Linked DNA regions of Homo sapiens: region 1 is linked to region 2. The links come from fine-mapping of genetic effects on gene expression. A gene starts in region 2. The other region holds a variant in brackets. All regions are shown on one strand. Distances are between the middles of the regions.

The links.
Region 1: its variant is fine-mapped to the expression of SLC7A7 in B cells (Schmiedel 2018, PIP 0.95).

The regions. Positions count from the first base shown.
Region 1 is chr14:22,783,588-22,795,495 of GRCh38, forward strand. All of the region lies in intron 2 of SLC7A7 (solute carrier family 7 member 7), which reads right to left. Among named protein-coding and RNA genes, the nearest start is that of OXA1L, 23 kb to the left of the region's middle. RefSeq lists a silencer at 1-20. The variant GA/G (reference allele first, on the strand shown) is at 5,118.
Region 2 is chr14:22,809,625-22,819,421 of GRCh38, forward strand. It overlaps SLC7A7 (solute carrier family 7 member 7), which reads right to left and starts at 5,811. Exons shown (of 10, transcript NM_003982.4): 1 at 5,696-5,811; 2 at 3,276-3,816. The coding sequence starts at 3,774. RefSeq lists silencers at 3,659-3,718, 3,739-3,798 and enhancers at 5,106-5,612, 5,801-5,900.

The DNA of each region.
Region 1 (11,908 bases), 25 kb before region 2:
ACAGGGTTTCGCCATGTTAGCCAGACTAGTCTCAAACTCCTGACCTCAGGTGATCCGCCTGCCTCAGCCTCCCAAAGTGCTGGGATTACAGGTGTGAGTCACCGGCGTGGCGTGCCCAGTCTCTTCTCTACTTCTCTATCCATCCATTTGTATCCCTCTCTTTGTCCACCAGTATCCCACCTCCCCCACTCCTGAGCCTGATTTCTCTGACCCACCTTCTAGCCCTGATCTGCTCTCTGTACTGAGCACAGAAGGCTCAGTTTGAATGAGGAAGGGAATCCTACAGAAAGAAACCAGGGAGCAGAGGGAACTGCCTGAAGAGAGCTAGCCCTCCTCTTCCTCAAAGCCTAGCTTCCTCCAGGGCCTCTTGACTGTGGGAGCAGGAAATGGGTATGGCAGGCAGCAGTGCTGACAGGGCTTTTTGTCCCCACCTCAGCGGATACAGCTGACCACTGGCCCCAGAGCCCAGCTAAGTGCACTGCTCTTGAAGTGGAGCCCAACCTCCTGCTTCAGGGCCAAGGACAGGAGGGGACCATGGGGTTAGGATAATATGGAGGCAACTGCAAGTTAACCTCAAGGGCAGAGATGCCCTCCCCTTCTACCTCTAGGGGCAATTCAATCCCCACCCAACACTGGGCCAAGTCTATAAGAGGATAACCTGAAATCACCTTTGACCCTTGACTCGGTGCAGCAGCACTCCTGCTTTGACCCCAGGGGGAGAAAAAAAGAATCTGCAAAGAAGTCACTCGTGGCCGGGTGCAGTGGCTCACGCCTGTAATCCCAGCACTTTGGGAGGCCGAGGTGGACAGATCACGAGGTCAAGAGATCGAGACCATCCTGGCCAACATGGTGAAACCCTGTCTCTACTAAAAATACAAAAATTAGCTGGGCATGGTGGTGTGTGCCTGTAGTCCCATCTACTTGGGAGGCTGAGGCAGGAGAATCACTTGAACCCAGGAGGCGGAGGATGCAGTGAGCCAAGATCACACCACTGCACTCCAGCCTGGTGACAGAGCAAGACTCCATCTCAAAAAAAAAAAAGAGAAGTCACTCCTATAACCATCTAAAAAGATGTTCCTGAATGGATCATCAAACCCAGCCTACATACGGTCCCCGGGAGTAGGAGACTAGTTCTAGTGGTAAGGCCCAGCATCAGCGCTAGAACTAAAAGCCAGAAAGCACCAGACCAGGTGGATCCAGAACAGAACAAAGCTTGCAGGCCCACTCTGGATCAGATGCTCAGGTTTAGTTTAGACACCTAAATGAAACATTTCCTGAAAAAGAACATTAAACCCACAATTCTGTAAGCACTATTACCTTTAAATACACACAATGTAACACACAAAACTTATGATTACAGGCGTGAACCACCATGCCCGGCGTCATTCCATTTTAAAAGTGATCTATAGAGCCAGGCGCGGTGGTTCGCGCCTGTAATCCCAGCACCTTGAGAGACTGAGGCGGGCAGATCACTTGAGGCCAGGAGTTTGAGACCAGTCTGGCCACCATGGCGAAACCCCGTCTCTACTAAAAATATAAATATTAGCTGAGTGTGGTGGCGCATGCCTGTAATCCCAGCTACTTGGAGGCAGAGGTAGGAGAATCATTTGAACCCGGGAGGCAGAAATTGCAGTGAGCCAAGATCACGCCACTGCACTCCAGCCTGGGTGACACAGTGAGACTCCATCTCAAAAAATAAAATAAAATAAAGTGATCTATAGCTCTTCCTTTTACTAAGCCAACAGCGTCTTCCTCCCAGCTTCTACCAGTAGTGCCAGACCCCTCCTCTGTCTCCACACAGAATGAAGCTAAATCCTCTTCCACCCAATGGCCCTTCTTAACATTAAAGATGAATATCACGGCCAGGCGCTGGCTCACGCCTGTAATCCCAGCACTTTGGGAGGCCAAGGCGGGCAGATCATCTGAGGTTGGGAGTTCGAGACCAGCCTGACCAACATGGAGAAACTCCGTCTCTACTAAAAATACAAAAATTGGCCAGGCGTGGTGGCACATGCCTGTAATCCCAGCTAGTCGGGAAGCTGAGGCAGAAGAATCACTTGAACTCGGGAGGTGGAGGTTGCGGTGAACTGAGATCTCGCCATTGCACCAGCCTAGGCAACAAAAGCAAAACTCCATCTCAAAAAAAAAAAAAAAAGCCAGGCGCGGTGGCTCACGCTGTAATCCCAGCACTTTGGGAAGCTGAGGCAGGCGGATCATGAGGTCAGGAGATCAAGACCATCCTGGCTAACACGGTGAAACCCCATCTCTACTAAAAATACAAAAAATTAGCCGGGTGTGGTGGCAGGCGCCTATAGTCCCAGACACTCAGGAGGCTGAGGCAGGAGAATGACGTGAACCCGGGAGGCGGAGCTTGCAGTGAACCGAGATTGCGCCACTGCACTCCAGCCTGGGCCACAGAGCGAGACTCTGTCTCAAAAAAAAAAAAAAAAAAGCCAGGTGCAGTGGCTCACGCCTGTAATCTCAGCACTTTGAAAGGCCAAGGCGGGTGGATCACGAGGTCAGGAAATTGAGACCAGCCTGCCCAACATGGTGAAAACCTGTCTCTACTAAAATACAAAAATTAGCCAGGCATGGTGGCACAAGCCTGTAGTCCCAGCTACTCGGGAGGCTGAGGCAGGGGAATTGCTTGAACCCGGGAGGCAGAGGTTGCAGTGGGCCGAGATCACGGCACTGCACTCCAGCCTGGCCACAGAGCAAGACTCCATCTAAAAACAAACAAAAAGGATGAACATCCTGTCCCCTTGAGTCTTTACTCCTTCAGGCTAAAACCCAGATTTTACAACCCCTTGTGGAGCAAATGTGGCTTCCAGACCCCTCACCATCCCAGGACTGTCATTTATTTCACTTTGTCATTTACTGCATATACTTCACTGTGTCAGTATTTCCCCAGAAATGCAAGACCCCACACAGAAAACTCCAGACCGTGTTGCCGACTACGGAGTCTCAACCTGAAATCATTGTTTACTACAACTCCTTTCTTTCCCACCTCAAAGTGATGAGATCTTTCCTCCCCTCTTTCTGGACCTATAAAAATGATTTTTTTAGCTGGGTGCGATGGCTCATGCCTATAATCCCAGCATTTTGGGAGGCCGAGGTTGGAGGATCGCTTGAGTCCAGGAGTTCAAGACCAGCCTGGGCAACATTGTGAGAACACATCTCCACAAAACATTTTTTTTAGTTAGCCAGACATGGTGGCACACACCTGTGGTCCCAGCTACTTGGGAGGTTGAGGCAGGGGGATCGCTTGAGCCCAAGTGGTCAAGGCTGCAGGGAGCTGTGATCGCACCACTGCACTGCAGCCTGGGCAACACAGTAAGATCCTTTCTCCAAAACAAAAAAAGTGATTTTTTCCCCCCAGATACAGGACTTCATATTTAGTCTTAGTGACTTTCCTCTGAGTTTTTATGCATTATTCTTATATGATATGGGATTTTTCCTTCTTCATTTTATTAGTTCAAATCCCTTCTTTAATTTTGTGAAATCTGCAAATTTGATCAGCATACCTCCTGAGTCTTCACTGAAGTCACCCTAAAAATGTTGACTAGGGCCGGGCGCAGTGGCTCACGCCTGTAATACCAGTACTTTGGGAGACCGAGGAGGGAGGATCACCTGAGGTCAGGAGTTTGAGACCAGGTTGGCCAACATAGTGAAACCCCGTCTCTACTAAAAGAACAAAAATTATCCGGGTGTGGTGGTGGGCACCTGTAGTCCCAGCTACTCGGGAGGCTGAGGCAGGAGAATCGCTTGAACCCAGGAGGCGGAGGTTGCAGTGAGCCAAGATTACACCACTACACTCCAGCCTGGGCGACAGAGTGAGACTCCGTCTCAAAATAAATAAATAAATAAATAAATGTTGACATGGGCTGGCAGCAGTGGCTCACGCCTGTAATCCCAACACTTTGGGAGGCTGAGGCAGGCAGATCACTTGAGGCCAGGAGTTCGAGACCAGCCTGGCAATATGGCAAAACCCCATCTCTACTAAAAGGAAAATGCAAAAATTAGCAGGGTGTGATGGCACACGCCTGTGGTCCCAGCTACTCAGGAGGCTGAGACATGGGAATTGTTTGAGCCTAGGAGGCAGAGGTTGCACTGAGCCAAGATTGTGCCACTGCACTCCAGCCTAGGTGACAGAGCAACACTCTGTCTCAAAAAAAATTTTTTTAATAAAAAAATTAAAATGTTAGGCCGGGCACGGTGGCTCACGCCTGTAATCCCAGCACTTTGGGAGGCCGAGGCAGGCAGATCACAAGGTCAGGAGATCGAGACCATCCTGGCTAACACAATGAAACCCCATCTCTACTAAAAATACAAAAAGTTAGCCGGGCGTGGTGGCGGGTGCCTGTAGTCCCAGCTACTCGGGAGGCTGAGGCAGGAGAATGGCGTGAACCCGGGAGGCGGCGGTTGCAGTGAGCCGAGATCGCGCCACCGCACTCCAGCCTGGGTGACAGAGCGAGAGTTCGTCTCAAAAAAAAAAAAATTAAAATGTTGACTAAGATCAACAGAGCTGTATAGTCTATCACTGTAGACCTTTCTGTATTTGTCATTATTCCACAATGTTATTCAGCCAACTAAGAATCTACCAAACTTTATTTTTATCTAGTCTACCTTGTCAACAAGAATATCATGAGAATTTGCCACGAACCTCTCCGAAATCTGCATACACATGCCTCTGCTCTAACAATCTAATGATGCTATCAAACAATTCAAATCAAATTAGTATATATTTATGTAGAATATTCATAGTTACACCCTTGCAGTAGTCAAAAACTAGAAACAACCCAAATGCCCAGCAACAGTAGATTGAATAAATACTAAACAGCACTAAGAATAAACAATCTGTAATCCTAGCACGTTGGGAGGCCAAGGCGGGCAGATCACAAAGTCAGGAGTTTGAGATCAGCCTGGCCAACATGGTGAAACCCCCGTCTCTACTAAAAATACAAAAATTAGCTGGGCGTGGTGGCGGGCACCTGTCATCCCAGCTACTCAGGAGGCTGAGGCAGGAGAATCGCTTGAACCCGGGAGGTGGAGGTTGCAGTGAGCCAAGATCCTACCACTGCACTCCAGCCCGGGCGACAGAGTGAGACTCTGTCTGG[GA/G]AAAAAAAAAAAAAAAAGTGAACAATCTACGACTACAGACAAAAATACAGAAGAATCTCAAACATAATAAGCAAGCCAGATGCAAAAGTGTACATATAGATTATATCCATTTACATAAAATCAGAGAAAACTAATCAATGCTACTAGAAGTCAGAATAGTGATTTCCCTTTGTGTGGGGTGGAGAGGCAGGGACTGGGAAGAGCATAAGAAGGGCTCAAGGGTGCTAGTTACACATGTGCTCAACTAGTGACAATTCATTAAGCCATAAACTTATGAGATTGCACTGTTCCTTCTGTATATTATATTTGAATAAAAAAATTAAAATTGAACCAAAAAGTGAGGTTAGCAGAGTATGGCTTGTTCTTAGTGAATTCATACACGTTACTAATGATTTCCCACCCTTCTGCTCGTACTTCACTAACCAGATTTAACTTACAAGCCTAGAATTTGGGCAAGAATCCACCTTAAGTTATCACTTCAGAGTGCTGCTCATCCACCTCCGGTGGAAAGCTGGGCTATCACTTGTGGTAGGTAGACTAATGGCCCCCCAAAGATGTCCACCCCCTAATCCCTGGAACCTGTGAGCCATGTTATATTGCATGGCAAGGGAGAATTAAAGTTGCAGATAGAGGCCAGGCGCAGTGGCTCATGCCTGTAATCCCAGCACTTTAGGAGGCCAAGGCGGGCAGATCACCTGAGGTCAGGAATTCTAACCAACATGAGTCAGCCTAACCAACACGGTGAAACCCCGTCTCTACTAAAAATACAAAAAATAGCTGGGTGTGGTGGTGGGTGCCTATAATCCCAGCTACTCAGGAGGCTGAGGCAGGAGAATTGCTTGAACCCAGGAGGCGGAGGTTGCAGTGAGCCAAGATCACACCACTGCACTTCAGCCTGGGCAACAGAGCAAGACTCTGGCTCAAAAAAAAAAAAAAAAAAGAAAAAAGTTGCAGACAGAATGAAGATTGCTAATCAAGTGACAAAACAGGGAAATCATTCTGTATTCTCTGGGTGGGCCCAATGTAATCACAAAAGTTCTTAAAGATGAAAGAGGGAGGCAGAAAGGTCAATGTCAGAGTAGTACAATATGAGAAAGACTCTCCCAGTTACTGCTGACTTTGAAAATGGAAGGGTCCATGAGACTCTAGAAGCTGGGAAAGGCAAGAAGATGGATCCTCTCCTTAAGCCTCCAGAAAGAAACACAGTGCTACTTCATATTAGCCCAGTGAGACCCATTTCAGACTTCTGACCTCCAGAATTATGAGATGATAAATTTGTGTTGTTTTCAGCCACTCAATTGGTGGTAACTTGTTAGAGAAGCAATAGAAAACTCATATGTTGGCTGGGCACAGTGGCTCGCTCCTGTAATTCCAGCACTTTGGGAGGCCAGGGTGGGCTGATCCCTTGAGCTCAGGAGTTTGAAACCAGCCTGGGCAACATAGAGAAACCCTGATTCTACAAAAAATACAAAAATTAGCTGGGCCTGGTGGCGTGCACCTGTAGTCTCAACTACTCAGGAGGCTAAGGTGGGAGAATTGCTTGAGCCTGGGGAGGTCAAGGCTGCAGTGATCCTTGATTGCACCACTGCATTCCAGCCTGGGTGACAGAGCAAGACTGTCTCAAAAAAAAAAAAAAAAAAAAAAAAAAAACCTAACTGCAGGCAGAAAACTGGAAGTAGCACTGGGTGGTACTATTCATTACATTTGTTGAAAAATGGAGAAAGGGGAAGTGAAACCCTTGACAGCTCACTGGATCTTGGTGTACTGAAATTTCCCTCTCACTGCAATCAAAAGAATCTAAATGTGACCTTATGCAAAGAAGGCAGGCATCCCTTATGATAGCAGATCCTCAAACAAGTATGTACCTCTCTCTTTAATGTACTACATGAATCCCAGCTCTTCTAGCAAATCATCATTTTTGAACAAAGTATACTCTTTCATTATCATATTCTAATCAAATATCGCTGATGCCTATGAAATTGTTTCCTCCTTTCAGTAAAAGGTCAAATACGGGCCGGGCACAGTGGCTCATGCCTGTAATCCCAGCACTTTGGGAGGCGGAGGCAGACGAATCACGAGTTCAAGAGATTGAGACCATCCTGGCCAACATGGTGAAACCCCGTCTCTACTAAAAATACAAAAATTAGCTGGGTGTGGTGGTGTGCGCCTGTAGTCCCAGCTACTGGGGAGGCTGAGGCAGGAGAATCACTTGAGCCCAGGAGGCGGAGGTTGCAGTGAGCTAAGATCGCGCCACTGCACTCCAGCCTGGTGACAGAGCGAGACTCCGTCTCACAAAAAAAAAAAAAAAAGGTCAAATACGTTTATTAGCCTTACTTGTAATATTTGTAGATAAGAGTTCAAAAGCATCATTTCTGATCTTCCATCCCATTTTCTCCAAATGCGTTACTGAGCAACTCCTCTCTGCCTTTATTCTCTGCTATGTAGTCTCCAAAATACCCAGATTTATACTTTTATCTAGGCATTTTTCTCCTTGCCTCTAAAATTTCCATTCTAAAGCCTTATTATACACATCTCTCCCAATCCCTATAAACCTCCTCTATCCCTTACCAGGAGTTTATCTTTCTGGTATCTTAGAATCTTAGAATTTACGGTTAGGAACTCTGTTCTGTGTTCTTTTTTCTTTCACATACACAGCCTTCAGCTGACAAAGAGACGAAAATTCCACCTGCCACTCAGTTTGCTACTTTAAACTTCACGTCACCAGTGAGACATCTCAGCTATCTTCTGACTGGTGACATCATTCATCCCACAGCAATTAGCAGAAGGATAGCAGTCCCTAGGCTTAATTGGTGTGAGCAAGCTCTTGGTCACATGTTGCTCAGAAAAACTGCACATTTCTAGGTTAGGCTGGGTCTGTGTATAGTCAGATGCACACTATTCCTGGGGGAAGGCCAAACCCCACAACTGGCATACTCAGGCCTGCTAATACCCTGGTGTCTCCAAAATACTCTACCACTGCTGTTTCCTCAGAAGGTCCAGATATAAGCTCTCTGGAAACGCCTCATATCTGTTACCTAAACCCAGAGATTTCAAGTCTCTTCTTCCTTTTCTTTGCTGCATCCCCATTTGTTTTGTCTAATGTTGGTTTGGGAAAATCTCTACACCTTTTTTTTTTTTTTTTTAATTGAGATGGAGTCTCGCTCTGTCGCCCAGGCTGGAGTGCAGTGGCGCCATCTCGGCTCACTGCAAGCTCCGCCTCCTGGGTTCACGCCATTCTCCTGCCTCAGCCTCCCGAGTAGCTGGGACTACGGGCGTCCGCCACCACGTCCGGCTAATTTTTTTGTACTCTTAGTACAGACGGGGTTTCACCATGTTAGCCAGGATGGTCTCAATTTCCTGACCCCGTGATCCACCCGCCTTGGCCTCCCAAAGTGCTGGGATTACAGGCTTGAGCCACCGCGCCCGGCCTGGAAACTCTCTACACCTTGAAATCACAATTTCACCCTGGCTTCTTTGATACATTATTTCTTCCACTCTCCCTAGGTGCTGTTATTTCTCTCAGATAGCAGATGGCCTTCAAATTATTTTACCTTTCAGACTACAGAAACCTTTTACTCCAGGTGCAGTGGCTCATGCCTATAATCCCAGCACTTTGGAAGGCCAAGACGTGAGGATCACTTGAGGCCAGGAGTTGGAGACCAGCCTGGGCAGCATAGCAAGACCCTTTCTCTACAAAAAAATTACAAATTAGCTGGACTTGGTGGTGCACACTGATGGTCCTAGCTACTTGGAAGGCTGAGGTGGGAAGGTCACTTGAGTGCAGGATTGAGCCCATAACCATGCTACTGCACACCAGCCTGGGCAACAAAGCAAGACTTCGTCTCAGAAAATAAAATAACATTTTTGACCAGGCGTGGTGGTGGCTCACACCTGTAATCCCAGCATTTTGGGAAGCCGAAGTGGGCGGATCACCTGAGGTCAAGCGTTCATGACCAGCCTGACCAACATGGCAAAACCCCGTCTCTACTAAAAATACAAAAATTAGCCAGCCGTGGTGGCGCACGCCTGTAATCCTAGCTACCTGGGAGTCTGAGAGAGGAGAATCATTTTGAACCCAGGAGGCGGAGGTTGCAGTGAGCCGAGATTGCACCACTGCACTCCAGCCTGGATGATAGTGTGAGGCCCCGTCTCAAAGAAAGAAAGAGAGAGAGAGAGAGAGAGAGAGAGAGAAAGGAAAAGAAAAGAAAAATATCTTTTTTTTTTTTTTAAAGACAGAGTCTCGCTCTGTCGCCCAGGCTGGAGTGCAGTGGTGCGATCTTGGCTCACTGCAACCTCCGCCTCCCGGGTTCATGCCGTTCTCCTGCCTCAGCCTCCCAAGTAGCTGAGACTACAGGCGCCCGCCACCAAGCCCAGCTAATTTTTTGTATTCTTTAGTAGAGACAGGGTTTCACCGTGTTAGCCAGGATGGTCTCGATCTCCTGACCTCGTAATCCGCCCGCCTCGGCTTCCCAAAGTGCTGGGATTACAGGCGTAAACCACCACGCCCAGCCAATTAAAATAAAAATTTTAAAGAAACAACCAATTCGCTTACTCAGGTGTCATGGGTGAGAGCCTCTGTAATTGCAAAATTTTGACTGAGACAGTGAAAGAGATCTAACTTAACTGACTCCATCTTGCTTCTAACCTCCAAGCTGCCTTTATTCATTCCCAGGCATAGGCTGAACTAACTTTGGGAGAAACTTAGTTTATAATTTAGACAAAGAGGATAACAGCCCTTTCCCAAAGCAGACCTCCTTCTTGCCTGGGGACTAGATTGCCTTTGTAGGACTAACATTAGCCACAAGATTAGAAATTATGGTTTAGGGCTGGGCACGGTGGCTCATGCCTGTAATCCCAGCACTTTGGGAGCCATAGGAGGGCGGATCACCTGAGGTCAGGAGTTCAAGACCAGCCTGGGCAACATGGTGAAAACCTGTCTCTACTAAAAATAAAAAATAAAATTAGCTGGGTGTGGTGGCGTGCACCTGTAACCCCAGCTACTAGGGAGGCTGAGGCAGGAGAATTACTTCAACTCGGGAGGTGGAGGTGGCAGTGAGCCAATATCACACCACTGCACTCCAGCCTGGGTGACAGAGCAAGACTCCATCTCGAAAAAAAAAAAGAAATTATGGTTTAGGAGTCACGCAGCTGGAAGCTACAAGATTCTGACCTTCCCTAAACTGCTCCTAAGATCAGTGCTTGAGGTATTTTGTAGACCCTGCTCTTGGTGGATCAGCTGGCCCCCACCCAGATCAATAAACTGGCTTAGCTGATCTTGTGGCCCCCACCCAGGAACTGACTGAGAGCAAGAAGACAGCTCTGATTCCCTGTGATTTCATCTCTAACTAATCAGCACTCCTGGCTCACTGGCTTCCCCTGACCCACCAAGTTATCCTTAAAAACTCTGCTCCCAGAATGTTCGGGGAGACTGATTTGAGTAATAATAAAACTCCGGTCTCCCGCACAGCCGGCTCTGTGTGAATTACTCATTATTGCAATATCCCTGTCTTGAAGAATTGGCTCTGTCTAGGCAGTGGGCAAGGTGAACCCCTTGGGCAGTTACACCTCTGGCAAGAAGACACACCAAATGCAATCCCTGTGGGTCACTGGATCAGAGTCCTCCCGCTCTCCTTCCTGGAACTCAGTCAGCACTTTGGTCCCTGTGGCTCTGACCACTCTGAGGGAGCAAGCAGGCAGTTTGTACCAGGAGGGTCTTATAGTAACAACCCCGTGAGTCCCTTCTCCAAGCCGTGTAAATCCAATCCTTATTGGTTTGCTTAGCTAGGGGTCAGTTCAAGTCCTCAGGTACCAGATCTCAAGCCTGAGTGAGCATCAGTACCACCTGAGGAATTTGTCGACCCACAACTTCAGGGCCCCACACCCCAGAGGTTCTGATGCAGGAGACCTGAGACAGTTTCGCAGGCTAATCTGAGGATCTGCTTCTCTGGGTGTGTTTCCTTAGGTAATCACCTACGGAAATAACCACACACAGAGCAGCTGTATCAGAACAGTCGCAACCCTTTGCTAACTCAAGGCTCCTCTATCCTGGCTGCAAACTAGCATCACTTGACGAGCTTTAACAGTCCAGTGCTCAGGCCCCACCCAGACCAATGAAGTCAGAAATTCTGGGGTGGAACCCAGGCATCGGCATGTTTTTAAAACTCCCCAGGTGACTCTGAAGCATGGTGACAATTGAGAACGGCTTTTCCCACCTCTAGTGACACAAGACCCTCATCAATTCTCCTCAAAAGCAATTTTTCTGCTTCCTTAATTCTCGTTCTCCAAGCCAATTCTCATCTCATTCTTCTCCCCAGTGGTTCAGATTTATGTAGTCAGGGAGTGGGAGTGATGAGTATTGTTTTCTTTCTTTCTTTTTTTTTTTTTTTTTTTTTTGAGACAGCGTCTCACTCTGTTGCCCATGCTGGAATGCAGTGGCACAATCTTGGCTCACTGCAGCTTGGACCAAATGGGCTTAAACAATCCTCCCACCTCAGCCACCTGAGTAGCTGGGACTACAGGCATGCACCACCATGCCCAATTAATTTTTTTTTTTTTTTTTTGTAGAGACCAAGTTCTCCAGACTGGTCTCCTGAGCTTAAGCCATCCTCCTACCTCAGTCTCCCAAAATGCTAGGATTACAGGTGTGAGCCACCGTGCCCAATCTGAGTATTGCTTGCTTGCTTTCTTTCTTTCTTTCTTTCTTTCTTTCTTTCTTTCTTTCTTTCTTTCTTTCTTTCTTTTCTATTCTTTTCTTTTCTTTTCTTTTCTTTTCTTTTCTTTTTTAATTGAG
Region 2 (9,797 bases):
GCCACCATGCCCGGCCTTTTTTGTATTTTTAGTAGAGAGGGGGTTTCACGATCCGCCCATCTTAGCTTCCCAAAGTGCTAGGATTACAGGCATGAGCGACTGCACCCGGCCTTTGCATGTATTCTTACAAGGATGTACAGGCACGTGAATGTGTACATGGGTGAATGAGGATTTAAACATGTATGTCTCTATACCCAAATTAGAAGCAGAAAATTGGCCAGGTGCAGTGGCTGTGAAATCCCATCTCTTCTAAAAATACAAAAAATTAGCTTGGCGTGGTGGCGGGCGCCTGTAATCCCAGCTACTTGGGAGGCTGAGGCAAGAGAATCGCTGGAACTCGGGAGGCGGAGGTTGCAGTGAGCTGAGATCGCACCATTGCACTCCAGCCTGGGCAACAAGAGGGAAACACTGTCTCAAAAAAAAAAAAAAAAAAAAAAAAGCAGCAACAGCAGAAAATTAAAAAGGGTTGACTGGCAGAGGTAGGCACAAGGTCAGAATCGAGGAACAAGAGCTGTCAGAAATGACACAGACAAAGATAGTTAAAATAATAGAATTCTAAGGCCGGGAAGGTGGCCCATGCCTGTAATCCCAGCACTTTGGGAGGCCGAGGTAGGCGGATTACCTGAGGTCCGGAGTTCGAGACTAGCCTGACCAACATGGAGAAACCCCATCTCTACTAAAAATACAAAATTAGCCGGGCATGGTAGCACATCTGTAATCCCAGCTACTCGGGAGGCTGAGGCAGGAGAATCACTTGAACCTGGGAGGCAGAGGTTGCGGTGAGCCAAGATCACGCCATTGCATTCCAGCCTGGGCAACAAGAGCGAAACTCCATCTCAAAAAAAAAAAAAAAAATAGATTTCTGGTATTTTAAAGGAATGCAGCCATCTTAGAAATATTACTTAGATGAAATGATCCTTCTCTGCACATGATATAATTAACCATATGCCCACATTTGAGGGTGCTCCAAGACCAATAGATCCTAAAATTAGTTTTGCCAGTAAGCAACCTACCAGATCATCTGCAAGTAATGCAAGAGAAATCACAGATCATATTTAAGACCTCAGTGAAGGCTGGGCACAGTGGCTCATGCCTGTAATCCCAGCACTTTGGGAGGCCAAGGCGGGCGGATCACCTGAGGTCGGGAGTTCAAGACCAGCCTGACCAACATGGAGAAACCCTGTCTCTAATAAAAATACAAAAATTAGCCAGGCGTGGTGGCACATGCCTGTAATCCCAGCTACTTGAGAGGCTGAGGCAGGAGAATCACTTGAACCCGGGAGGCAGAGGTTGTGGTGAGCCGAGATTGTGCCATTGCACTCCAGCCTGGGCAACAAGAGTGAAACTCCGTCTCGGAAAAAAAAAACCTCAGTGAAAACCCCCTTCTTGCAACACAAAGCAGTGCCTTCCACCCCTCCCTGACTGTTGCCATGTATGACAAACATCCCATATGCAGAGATGAGTCCAGGCCAGACACAAGGACACACAAAACACAGAAGGACCCCACAGAAGACAGCCAGTTCTCTACACAACAGTAAAATCAGAGAAGCTGGAAAGGAAGTTGAGGAGTGAATGGGGCAATACAGAAATTGAAAGAAAAAAGGACACAAACTGATTGGAGAGCGGTGAGCCAATGAGCAATTGCACCTGGTGCAAAATTCCTGTGCCCCAACTGCTAGAGCAGCTGCCCCTCAAATTGACAGAATGTCTGAGCTTCTTCACAGTTGCAGGGTGGAAGGCATCTCTAAGGTCCTAGGCTCTCCCAGGTTGGAAGGGCATTTTTCAAGAATAGTGGCATCTGAGGGATGGGGCTATGGAGAATCATCATCTCAGCACCTCCAATGGCTTTACTGAATGTACAGATTTAAATAATGTTTTATTTATGAGATGGAGAAAAAGCCAAGGTGGACTGAAATGACAGTATTAAAAATCTAGCCCACAGAGGCCGGGTGCAGTGGCTCACGCCTGTGATCCCAACACTTTGGGAAGCCAAGGCAGGTAGATCACTTGAGCTCAGGAGTTCGAGTCCAGCCTGGCCAACACAGTGAAACCCCGTCTCCACCAAAAATACAAAAAAATTAGCTAGGCATGGTGGCACATGCCTGTAATCCCAGCTACTAGGGAGGCTGAGGCAGGAGAATCACTTGAACCCAGAAGATGGAGGTTGCAGTGAGCTGAGATTGCACCACTCAAGCCTGGGCGACAGAGTGACTCTATCTCAAAAAAAAAAAAAAAAAAAAAGGAAGAATCCAGCCTACAGAAATACTCATGCAGCTGCAAAAAGATATTCACTGGAGCATTATCTGTAAGACTGAGAAACTGAAACCAACGTACATGGCCATTAACAGAGGACCAGCTAGATAAATAAACTACTATGCATCCTTAAAATTCACATGAAATAATATGAAGCATTTTTTAAAAAGTAGATCTGTAAGTAGAAAAGAATGTCACTGATAATGCTAGAGGAAAAGCACACTGTAGAATTACATGTAGACTAGTATGACCTCATTTTTGTAAAAGAACAAAACTACACCTCTTTTTTTTTTATTTTTATTTTTTTGAGATAGAGTCTCACTCTGTTGCCCAGGCTGGAGTGCAGTGGTGCGATCTTGGCTCACCGCAACCTCTGCCTCCTGGGTTCAAGCGATTCTCCTGCCTCAGCCTCCTGAGTAGCTGGGATTACAGGCACCTGCCACCACACCCAGCTAATTTTTGTATTTTTAGTAGAGATGGGGTTTCACCATGTTGGCCAGGCTAGTCTCGAACTCCTGACCTCAGGTGATCTGCCCACTTCAGCCTCCCAAAGTGCTGGGATTACAGGCATAAGCCACCACACCCTGCCAAAACTACATCTCTTGAAGGAACAAGAAAAAAAAATCAGTGTGCCTGTGGTCCCTGCTACTCAGGAGGCTGAGGCAGGAGGATAGCTTGAGCCTAGAAGTTCGAGGCTGAAGTAAGGTATAATCACACCACTGCACTCCAGTCTGGGTGACAGAGCAAAATACCTGTCTCTTTAAAAAAAAAAAAAAAAAATCAGGAAGAATATGCAAACTGCTAATAGTGCTTACTGTGAGAAGCTGGGGAAAAGGTGAGTGTTTTTGCGATACACTGTGGTACTGTTTGAATTTTCACACAAAGCATACTTTAACTATATATATATATATATATGTTGTCAGAGACATTCCTCTCTATCTCCTTCTTACTCCCAGACTGCACTCACATCCCAGCCTCTGTCCAGCCCTCCACCCACCACCTCCTACCCCAGCCCCACTTACAAATGCAGGCAGCAGCCAGCAGGCGGCTGGCAGCATAAGGGGCGAAGCAGCTCGGGAAGAGAGGCTGTACCATGTAGTTGGCAAAGGTGATGGCAATGATGGCCTGGCTGGTGGGCTCAATGATGAGCAGGGAGGTCCAGAGTCTGATGAAAGCAAGGAATCCTCCAAAGGCCTCCAGGATATAGGCATAGCTGGCCCCAGATTTCTTAATGGTGGTGCCCAGTTCCGCATAACAAAGGGCCCCAAAGACGGAGAAGAGGCCCCCGACAGCCCAGATGACCAGAGAGAGACCAAAGGAGGCACTGTATATGAGCACACCCTTGGGGGAAACAAAGATGCCCGAGCCGATCATGTTCCCCACAATCAGGCACACGCCGTTAAGCAGTGAGATCTCCTTCTTCAGCTTCACCTGCTCCGGCCCTGGGCTGGCCCCATCACCCAAAGGGGAGGTTTCCACCTCAGGCTGGGAGGCCACTTCATACTCAGTGCTGTCAACCATGGTGGAGGAGAGGAAACCCTTCACCAGCTTCCTGGCATTGCCCTTTAAGGAAGAAAGATGATGCTATAGATTAGGTGGTTGGCAATTACATAGAACCTCTACCCGCCTCCAACACAGGGTAATACGGGCAGCTCACCAACCAATGCGGAGACCTCCAAATAACCTTTTCTCCAGCTCACTCATCAAAACAACCCCAACTTGAATATTTGTCTATCTATCTATGTATTTATTTATTTATTGACAGAGTCTCGCTCTGTAGCCCAGGCTGGAGTGCAGTGGTGCAATCTCGGCTCGGCTCACTGCAACCTCAGCCTCCCGGGTTCAAGCGCTTCTCTTGCCTCAGCCTCCCAAGTAGCTGGGATTACAGGCACCTGCCACCACGCGTGGCTAATTTTTTTTTTTTTTTTTTGAGATGGAGTTTTGCTCTTGTTGCCCAGGCTGGAGTGCAATGGCGCGATCTCAGCTCACTGCAACCTCCGCCTCCCGGGTTCAAGTGATTCTCCTGCCTCAGCCTCCCAAGTAGCTGGGATTATAGGCATGCACCACCACACCCAGCTAATTTTGTATTTTTAGTAGAGATGGGGTTTCTCCATGTTGGTCAGGATGGTCTCAAACTCCCGACCTCAGGTTATCCGCCCGCCTCGGCCTCCCAAAGTGCTGGGATTACAGGCGTGAGCCACCTTGCCCAGCCTCCAACTTGAATTTTTAAGAGAAGGCACTCATTCGCCAGAGAGAAAGGATCTGTCTCTCATCATTAGGACATTGCTGCCCACCCGACTCACCAAATAGAGAACTAAATCTTGGGCCGGGCGCTGTGGCTCACATCTGTAAACCCAGCACTTTGGGAGGCCAAGGCGGGCAGATCACCTAAAGTCGGGAGTTCGAGACCAGCCTGACCAACATTTAGAAACCCAGTCTCTACTAAAAATACAAAAATTAGCCATGCGTGGTGGCACATGCCTGTAATCCCAGCTGCTTGGGAGGCTGAGGCAGGAGAATCACTTGAGCCCGGGAGGCAGAGGTTGCGGTAAGCTAAGACTGGGCCATTGCACTCCAGCCTGGGCAACAAGAGCAAAACTCTGTCTCAAAAAAAAAACAAAATCAAAAACAAAACACTAAATGTTGGTTCTCTCTGAGCCTGCTATAATACAAGACAGGCATGGGGGCAGTGTGGCGGCTCCCAGAAAATAACTATAATGGCTTGACCCCGAGTTTTCAGCCTTATCCAAAACCCGTCTTCCCTCCAATTTCAGCTTCAGGGATCACCTGTGCTGAGGTACAACATTAGGAACTGACCCTACCAGCAGCTAATCTGTGGGAGCGTCTCATGACACTGCTCTTTTCCCCAAGGACTCTACGTCTGCCAAAACTAAAGGCTTCAGAAACCTGCTGGAAACCCACAACCATCCTCCTGCCCAAAGAGCATCCCTTAACCCTTAGCTGGAGTCTTCAGCCCTGGCAAAGCCCAAGTAGACCCACTTCACCCTGAAAGAAGACAGGCTATTATCTTTTCCTTGCTTTTCCTTTCCCATTCTCTGGTATTCTAAGCCTCCTGCTATCGATCCCTCACATCAGCATCGTTGAATCACCCAAAAAAGTATGAATGAGAGAAGGGCGATCCAATGTACCATAAAACCTAGGGATGATTGGAGGCAGCTGATGGCCACTCCCTACCCCAGAGTTGCTGCTGGAGAGATATCACCCCGAGCCAAGGCAGGGAGACAGCTGCAGCCAGGCAGCACATGCTGGAAAACACCGAACAGGAGACAGCTGAGAGGAAAATGGGAGAGGCTAGTCAAGCAATGGAGAGATGTTAGGGTGAGAGGCACTCGGGAGAAGAAGCGATTAGACACTGCACAGCAGCAAAGAGGAGGGTTAGCAAGGTAAGTGGAGATGAGAAGAGGGTGGAACGCACACTCACTCCTTGGTCCTGGATATAAGCAGGTTCTCACGGCAGTGTGAGCAGCAGTCAGGGAGAGAAGTGCCTTCCAGGATCTGTGGTCTGATGCTCCTCCTTCCCAGCCAGCAGTAAAAGGGAAGGCCAGACAAATGCCTATGGATTTAAGCAAGAAGGGTGGAGGAGGTGAGGCAGCCCGCAAAGGAAGGAGTGAGGGAGGGGGAAAGGAGTATTAAGCAACCATCTGGGTCCAAGGTTCACTGGCCCTTCACATCTGCAAAAGGGGCAGCTAGGAGCTCTTGGCTCAGCACTTTCTGTGATAAGAAGGTGCTCTCTCAGGAATCTCCTTTGTCAGCTCTGCTCTGGGACCAGGGGCCCAGAAGAAAGGACAGTCAGCTGAGTGCAGTATCTGTAGCCCTGGGGAAGCTGTCCCAGAGCAAGTTAGCTGAGGACAGGACAGTAGCGGGGAAGGAATACACAGCACTCTCTCTCTCTGTGTCCTCCATGCCCCACCCTAGCCTCTCTTCTCTCTCACCCCAAGCATTTAAGAAAGGGAGGAAGGTTGCACAGTGTGACACAAAGGCTTGTTCCCATGCTGAGATTACAGGAAGTGTAAGAGCAGTCTCTACACCATGTGACTGGGTGTTCTAAGAGAACTCTGCACACTTCCCCATGCAAAGAGAGACTGGGGGGTTGCCTCCAAGCCTGGGCCACTGCCCCAAAGTCTGAGCCTCAGACTACTTCAAAAGAAACACAGTCAAGAGATCAAATATCTGACTGCATCCCCACCAGACCCACGTGCCTTTTCATTCTTGACAAAACATACCAAGATCTCTGGGATAAGCATAAATTCCTATAAACGCCTTCCTCAAATATAAGTTGACTCCACTTTCCTAAAAAATATGAGGAAATCAGGCCAGACGCGGTGGCTCACGCCTGTAATCCCAGCACTTTGGGAGGCTGAGGCAGGCGGATCACAAGGTCAGGAGATCAAGACCATCCTGGCTAACACGGTGAAACCCCGTCTCTACTAAAAACACAAAAAAATAAAAATTAGCCGGGCGTGGTGGCGGGCACCTGTAGTCCCAGCTATTCGGGAGGCTGAGGCAGGAGAATGAGGAGAATGGCATGAACCCGGGAGGCGGAGCTTGCAGTGAACCCACATTAGGCCACTGCACTCCAGCCTGGGCAACACAGCAAGACTCCATCTCAAAAAAAAAAAATTAAAAAAGAATATGAGGAAATCAGATTTCACTGAATTCTGTTGGACAGACAGGCCCAGAACAGGCAGAGGAAGCTGAGCACTTTTTGGAAATCACATAGTTTATGCTATCTTTATTATTTACTTTAAATCTGGTATTCTGAGTCTCTTTTACCAACAGAAATAGACCCTATCCATTCTGAAATCCAACTGTCTGTTTCTTCTCCTATCTGTTCTAACCCTCTTTGGTTATTCTACAACCAGAGAATAGAGATCTAAATATCTCTGGGAGACATCTCTACCATACATCCTCCCATTCTAGCTCTTTAAACTTTTAATTTAATCTAGGAGGAGGATTCTGGTGTGAGCGTTCCCAGAGATCATGCTTCTCCCAAGACAGGCTCACAATGATCTGAAATCCTTCTGGAGGAGACTCTCCTTTTCTCCAAAATGCTCCTGTAATAATAATTGCTATCACTTATTGAGCACTTACTGGGCCAGACACACTGCTAAGGACTTAAGCACATTATCTCATGGAACCTCCAGAGCTCATATACTCTTAATCACACAAGTATACTATCTCTCCATCTCCCCATCCCCCTGGCCTGCCTTAGTCTCTAGGCCTTCCTTTTATTTTTTTTTTTTTTTATTTATTTTCTTTTTTTGAGACAGAGTCTCACTCTGTCCCCCAGGCTGGAGTGCAGTGGCACGATCTTGACTCACTGCAACCTCCACCACCTCCTGGTTCAAGCAATTCTCATGCATCAGCCTCCTGAGTAACTAGGATTACACCTGGCTAATTTTTGTGTTTTTATTTCGGTATTTTTATTTTATTTTATTTTATTTTATTTTATTTATTTTGAGACAGACACTTACTCTGTCGCCCAGGCTGGAGTGCAGTGGTGCAATCTCGGCTCACTGCAACCTCCACCTACTGGGTTCAAGCAATTCTCCTGCCTCAGCCTCCCGAGTAGCTGGGATTACAGGTGCACACCACCACGCCCAGCTAATCTTTTTTGTTTTTAGTAGAGTCGGGGTTTCACCACATTGACCAGGATGGTCTTAAACTCCTAAACTCAGGCAATCCGCCCACCTCGGCCTCCCAAAGTGCTAGGATTACAGGCATGAGCCATTGTGCCCAGCCTAATTTTTGTATTTCTAGTAGAGACGAGGTTTTGCCATGTTGGCCAGGCCGGTCTTGAACTCCTGGCCTCAACTGATCCACCTGCTTCTGCCTCCCAAAGTGATGGGATTACAGGCGTGAGCCACCGATGCCACCTTAGACCTTGCTTTTGGACAGGAATTATCTACATGAATTACCTGGGGGAAGATGTAAGCAGACTAGATTAAAAAGAAAGAAAGCCTCTGTCATCCTTCAGTCTATAGCCTAGACGAAAGGCTCCAACAAAGTTTGTTAATCTCCTTCCTGGCTGCCCCTCCCCTTTCTCATTCTTTGCAGGGATAAGAGGTGATTACAAGTCCTCTTGGCAGTGCTGCTATTGCTAGGGTGCCCACTTCTAAAGCAAACAAAAAAAAAAACACAAACACATCATCACGCCTGCCCTTTTAAGACCAAATTCACTGGCACCAAGGGGTGGGCATGTGTCCTAATATGACGTAAAAGAAAGGAAGGAAGGAGGGACAAAGGAAGGGAAAACTGTGAGGGGGAATGGAGAGAGAAGTGTACAGGGTTTCATTCCTGACTGGTAGCATCTGAAAAGTGAAGTCCTATCCGTGGAATTTTGAGACAGAAATCTGCTGGGGGTAAAACCCACACTCCAGCAAACAGCACGCCCTAGTGGTAGCACCAGGAAGTGCTAGTGGACTCTAACCTACTTCAGTCTGCCCGTGCGCACTAGGCAAGGGAGGCTGCCATGCATTGAGAACATGAAGACCCCCTCTTTTCTCAACCACTACCTAGCACCCTGGACAAGAAGGCACCATCTTTGGCAGCTCACATTTCTCCCTGAGACCCTGGGTCTTAGGGTAATGCTTCCACCATTCAGGCAGCCCCACCATTCAGGCAGCCTGGGACCAGCAACACCCCTAGGCTCTCCCAAAGGGGCTCTTCTACCCCAGGTTTTTGGTTTTTTTTTTTTTTTGGTTTTTGGGTTTTTTTTACCCGAGATGGAGTTTTGCTTTGTCCCCCAGGCTGGAGTGCAGTGGCACAATCTCTGCTCACTGCAACCTCTGCCTCCCGGGTTCTCCTGCCTCAGCCTCCCAAGTAGCTGGGATTACAGGTGCCCGCCACCGCGCCCAGCTAATTTTTGTATTTTTAGTAGAGATGGGGTTTCACCATGTTGTCCAGGCTGGTCTCGAACTCCTGACCTCGTGATCCTCCCACCTCAGCCTCCCAAAGTGCTGGGATTAAAGGTGTGAGCCACCGTGCCTGACCCACCCCAGGTTTTACATGAGAAACCCCATAAGATAACAGCAGCCCTTGTTGCCTTTCCCTGTCTGAGATGCATTCATCTCTGAACACCCAGTGAAGATTACAGGACAACACACTCATCCTACAGCTTGTGGAAGAAATTTGATTCAGAAACTGGCAGCAGGGCCTCCAGTATGCAGTGCTGGGCAGGACAGCCAATGGAGCCCCTCACCCTAACCTCACCCTCGAATGACAACACCAAAACACAATTTCTCCAGGAACTAGTACATAATTCGGGGTCTTGGCTCCTCAGCCAAGCTCAGGGAACTACTATAAGAACACACTTTCTCTCCCAGAGACCCCATGTCCTGCCTTCCTGGCTCCAATCAGTCTGTGCTGCCTCCCCTAACAACAGAAACAGAAAACAGATACACTCTGGTATGACTAGATTTCCCCATCACTCCAAGCTAGAAGCTCAGCTCCTCCCTCCCCAGTTCTCTGTTTGTTTTTCTATATTCCACTGTGGCTAAGACAGTCTCTTTAAAAAAAAAAAA